Linked DNA regions of Homo sapiens: region 2 is linked to region 1. The links come from fine-mapping of genetic effects on gene expression. A gene starts in region 1. The other region holds a variant in brackets. All regions are shown on one strand. Distances are between the middles of the regions.

What was found.
Region 2: its variant is fine-mapped to the expression of SLC25A13 in whole blood (TOPMed, PIP above 0.99).

What each region holds. Positions count from the first base shown.
Region 1 is chr7:96,320,737-96,323,653 of GRCh38, forward strand. SLC25A13 (solute carrier family 25 member 13) reads right to left here and starts at 1,362. Exons shown (of 18, transcript NM_014251.3): 1 at 1,206-1,362. The coding sequence starts at 1,220. RefSeq lists a silencer at 1,158-1,497.
Region 2 is chr7:96,299,989-96,302,905 of GRCh38, forward strand. All of the region lies in intron 1 of SLC25A13 (solute carrier family 25 member 13), which reads right to left. Among named protein-coding and RNA genes, the nearest start is that of SLC25A13, 21 kb to the right of the region's middle. The variant T/G (reference allele first, on the strand shown) is at 1,649.

The sequences.
Region 1 (2,917 bases):
GACCACAGAAACTAACAACATGAAGAAGCCTACGGATTTGGGGAGCCTGGAGAGACTTAAGTCATAGAACAGCATTTAAATATATTTGTCTGCTTACAATTTCCATTGCAAATGTGATTAGTTTGCTTGAATAAATAGGAATATGATGTGTTGGCCATGTTTTCCTCTTGAGGGTTATCACAGAGTTTTGATTAAGGACAAATGTTTGAAATGTTAGGTATATTTAAGTTCACTGCACTTAAAATGAGCTAAGAAGTTGTATAGGCTTGATTAGAGGGCTGCCTTCGTGAACTTAAATTAAAAGCAATAAATTCCAAATGATTCAAGTGATTGGGACTAAATATGGTATTCTGCCAGAGAAGTTGAAATGCAGTCCAAAGAGACTGAAATGGTGTCCAGGTTTCAAGAAATGGTGAAAGAGGAAAGGTCAAGTGTTGGAGTTGCCTTTCCTCTGGGTTAGTGAATGATTCACATTACACAGAACCCCTTTCAAGTACAACTTCACAGGAGTGACAGGCTCCCAGGACAATCTGTTTCATCGTTCCCAAAAAGAAGCCTCTCAAATGCTCCGAGGCGGGTATCTAAGTGTTGTCAGATGGAGAGAGGGAGGGGGAAGATGGGAATGATGGGAAAGCGGGGAGGGGGAGAGTCCCTGGACTTTTTATTCACAAAGGCGCAGACCAAGTCTCCTAGGCAGTTTCCAAAACGGAAGTCAAAGTAACTTCCCCACCCGCGGGAGGGCGGAGCCCTTGAAACGTAATAGGATCAGGCTTCAGCCCGGGCTCTGGCCCCTGGAAGAAGCCGGAGTCAACAACCAGCGGGGTCAGGAGCAGGAGCGCGCTGGGAAGGTAGAGAGGACCCCCAGCGCTTGCCGGCCCAGGGTGCACCAGGCCCCAGTCGCGCCCGCTCCTCCTCGTCGGCCCTGGCTCAGCCCCGTCAGGCACCAACTTCCCTCCCCGGCCAAGTGGGAGTGTCCGGCCCACAAAGTTTCCGCTGCGAGGTCGGGCCTCGGTCTCTGCACCGACCGCCTGTGCTGCCCGGGAGGAGTGGCCCCCTCCCTCCAGCAGCCGCAAGGTGGAACGGCTGCCCGGCACCCCATTTTGCTCCGCCTGTGGCACCAACCCAGACACGTGAGCGCCCGAGCCTCTCGCACCCCCAGGCTGATCCGGCAGGCGCGCTCCCCCCGGCCTCGGGCCCGCGGTTACCTTGGCGGCCGCCATGATTCGCCCCGGTTGCGGGCGACTGCGGGACCCACTGACTGGCTGGCTGGCGTTTGGGACCCGGGCGGCTCACTTCTAGTCCCGGCGGCGGCGGCGGTGGGGGCGGCGATACGGCCAGGCAGCGTGCGTTCCTGGCCTGCCTCCCCACGCCCTCCCGCCGGCGCGGGTCATGTGGATGCTGCCCGCCCATTGGCTGGGCCCAGCCTTGGCCGCCGGGGTGCGCGTGATCCAGCGGCCTCTGCCCTGCAGCCGGGGAGGGCTCAGATCCTGGGGCAGTGGCTGGACAGGGACACGTGACCCCGCTGCGCTGTCCAGCAGCGGCGGCCTCTGCGGCGTGGGCAGAGGTAACTTGGCCGTGTGCAAGCCCGTCACCTGAGGGCAGGTGGCCCCACCAGGGAAGCTGCTGGCTTCTGCTGATACCAGGGGCTACTGGGCCCTCGGACCGATGGGAGGGGCAAGTAACGACAGATGGTGCACGGCCTGGGGAAGTTGAGAACTCCACTAGGACACATACTTTGCTGGATATTTTTTCCCCTGTGCGTTCCCTTTGAAGGAGCTCCACTTTACACTGGATCCAAAAAGACTTTGATCCAAAAGCATTGACTTAGAAGGCGAGATTGCAAATATTGCTGGCACGCCTACTTTTAGATCAAAATCGGTGAACTCTTAAGAACCCAACAAGTGAATGTAGTGCAGAACGTATATTCATGAAACTACTCCATTTCAGCCCTACCTGTTAAAACGGTAGAAGTCAAAAGGCCCGGGTCAAAAGACTTCCCCCAAATAGGCCCTACTAAAATAAATAAACAAGCATTTTAATGAAAATTTGCTTATATGACCTCCAGGCCTTACTCCTCTTCATCAGGATTTCATTCTTCTGTCCTTGTAATCAAAATTTATAAGACAGTGGTGATCAGGGAAAAGGACTTTTAATGTATTGTAGGTTGTGGATGTAATATGGCAGCAAAAAGCACTTATTACTAATCAGTTTAATTCATTAACGTTGATTGAGTGCCTTCCTACTATGTGCTAGGCACTGTGCTTGGTGCTGGAAACCCCGAAATGACTTAAGAACTGGTTCCAACCGTTAAACAGCTTCAGGGCTATTGGGAAAGAGACACATAAATGTTTACTTCAGTATAACCTGTTAAGGCAGCAGACTGTTCCCAGGGCTCAATAAGAATACTGAGAATTCTCATGCCACTATGAAGAAATACCTGAGACTGGGTAATTTATAAACCAAAAGATTTAATTGACTCAGTTTCGCATGGTTTGGGAGACCTCAGGAAACTTACAGTTGTGGTGGAAGGCACCTCTTTACAGGGTTGCAGGAGAGAGAATGAGTGCCAAGCAAAGGGGGGAAAGCCCCTTGTAAAACCATCAGATCTCATAAGAACTCACTATCACAAGAACAGCATGGGAGTAACCGCCCCCATGATTCCGTTGTCTCTCACCGGGTCCTTCCCATGACATGTGGGGATTATGGGAACTACAATTTAAGATGAGATTTGGGTAGTGACACGGTCAAACCATATCAAAAGGTAACTTGATCTTGAGCTATGGGATTGGGGCAGTGGCACGACTAGTGGAAGGAGTCTGGCCCAGCAGGTAGGGGCTGTGTCATGGTGGGTCTTAGGCGCCTTGCTGAAGGGTATGCACCTTAACTGAAGGGTTTTAAGTCAGGAAGCAGCATGACT
Region 2 (2,917 bases), 21 kb before region 1:
TATATGCAGTCCTTCATTGATGAAAACATCCTTATGTGGTACATAACTGCAATATAGTACAAGCCTAAAAATCAAAACTCTCCCAATTTCTCCTAACAGTGTGTAGTGTCTGTCCAATGCTGTGATTAAGGACATGATCTTACAGGAATGGTGGCTCATACCTATAATCCCAGCACTTTGGGAGGCCAAGGTGGGAGGATCACTTGAGCCCTGGAGTTTGAGATTAGCCTGGGCAACATAGTGACACCCCATCTTCATTAAAAAAAAAGAACATGGCCTTAGTGTCAGATCATCCTCAAATAGGGAGCAGGACCAACCTCATAAACTCACTGGCCATGTGACTTGGAGGCCCTGACCTCTCAGCCTCACTTTCCTCATTTATAAAATGGGGAGTCCTAGACAGCTAGAAAAGTAATATGAGATAATTACACAAAGTGCTTAGCACCAAAAGGGCCACACAGTTAAAGTGCTCAATAAATGGTATCTATTACTATTTGTATTATTTATCCAAAGATGTTTATGTTCTACCATGTTTACTCCTTAAGAAATCTAAATGATGGGTAAACTGGCTCATAATTTAGAAGGGATAAATTAGCAAAAGAGAAGAGAAACTCATGGGTCTTCAAACACACTCACCAAACCACTAAATAAACATTGTGGCCATCCTAACTGATAATTGTCTCAGCTACCCTACCCCCAACCCAGAGTTCCAGGTACAGCAAATGGTTAATGATCACCACAAGATTTCTCTGAGGCCCACTAAAATTTGGCTCAGGTCCTGGTACATTCTATTTAAGGATAGATAAGTATGGTTCAACAGGGGATGGATTCAGAAAAATTACTACCAGCCTCCTGGGCCTCATCTCTATAGTAATTCCATCTATTATTCACCAGTCAAATGCTGTGTGGCTGTTCGGAATTTCCATTTATACTGCTACCTCCCATTCCTATCTTCTTGTTTTAAGTGTCATTTGCTATGAATGAAGAACACTTACACAACTTAATTGAAGACAATGCAAAGTTACCATGAGATGTACCAGTTTTTTAAAGGTGTATTTCAATGAATTCTACCTGGTGGCAAAACCAATACCCAGGAAGTTCTATGAGCTGGAAAAAGGAAGCCACAGAAATGTAGCCACCCTTTTAAAGTCAATTCAGAACAGCTGTCCAGCATGCATACTTTGCATCACATAAGCTTGGGATTATTAGACTTAGTTCATTCTTGGGCTTTAGAAGCCTGGAATTATTAGACTTCGTTCATTCTTGGGGTTTAGAAGAGTCATCAAACTTTAGATTGTTTCCAGAAGGCTTACTTTCACTGTTACATTTTTTTCTCATATATTAATAGCATGCAAATATTTACAGCTACTATTGTTATAACTGCCTGATTTTCTTTATGATTCTTCTTCTGAATTTGCATTTGTAAGAATGGATTCCAACATTAAAACAAAAATTTTATATCAAGAATTTTAAATCAAGTAACTGGTTTTCAAACATACAGAGTAATTCACTAAGAAGAAAGGGGTCCTTTACAGATTACTATGAAATATTATTTGCTAACAAGATAAAGAATTTTGTTGAAATTTGATAACATTTTACTCTGATTCCAAATTTAAGGGAAAAAGAGAGGGTTTTGGTGTTTTGTTTT[T/G]TTTTTTTTTAGTTGGGGGTCTCATTGTGTCACTCAGGCTGGAGTGCAGTGGTGCGATCATGGCTTACTGCAGCCTCACACTCCTGGGCTCAAGCAATCCTCCCACCTCAGCCTCCTGAGTAGCTGAGGCTAAATGCATGTGTCACCAGGCCCCACTAATTTTTTAATTTTTTTGTAGAGACAGTCTCACTATGTTGCTCAAGCTAGTCTCAAACTCCTGGCCTCAAGTGATCCTTCCATCTTGGCCTCCCAAAGTGCTGGGTTTACAAGCATGAGCCACCATGCCTGGCCCAGAAAGTGGCAATGTTGGAACAGAAAAACTCTATGCATAGTTTCTTCCATAAACTGGGAAAAGTCTATCATTATTTAAATTTAGTATGGAAATTTCAGGTCGATTCAATGAGTCTATGCTCCACAGGAGCAAAATTTGAGAATCACTGAATATGTAAAACTTTTTGACAAGATAAACACTGGTTATAATTGTGTAAGTCATCAATAGCGTTTGCAAAACACATACTAGGTAGGTACATCCTAGAAATAAAAAGAAAAACAATAACACAATTTCAAGAACTGGTGTTTTTAAAAAGGCAGGGGGTAGGGGAGAACATGGCAAGAAGAATACAAAAGTCATCTTTCAGGACAAATGAATTCACTCTCCTAATATGAGTTAGAGCAGCCATAGGTAGGGGGTCACCAGAAAATTCCTACCTGTAGGAATATTTTTTAAACAGACTTTCTTACAAGGGAATCAAGCCACAGTTGCAGGCTCATTACTTTAACAAATCACAGTGGTATAGAATGGTGTATTCAAAATAGTTGTCAGATCTAAGAGAGGATGGTGGGGAAGAATATAAGAAAACCTACACGAAAATAAGAAATGCTAATTTGAAAAATAAAATGCAAAGAAAAGCAAAGCTCTCCTCTTTCACTGGGAGGCTGTAGAGATGTGAGACCACCATCTCTGTGAGGGCACCTTACTCCTCAGATCAACCCCAACTCTGGCAAAGATCAGGAAACAAAGTAGATTCTCTGGAAGTGCTGAATATAGAATAAAGTCTTTCAGGTCAGTAAAAATCTGACATTTACAATGAAAATAGGCAACTCTCTTCAGACCAATGGTTCTCAAAGTGTGGAGACCATCAGCATCACCTGGGAACTTTTAAAAATACAAATTATCACACCCATCCCAGACCCAAAGAATCAGAAACTGGGTGAGGCCCAGCAATCCCCTATGATTTAACAAGCCCTCCAGGTGACCCTGATGCAGTT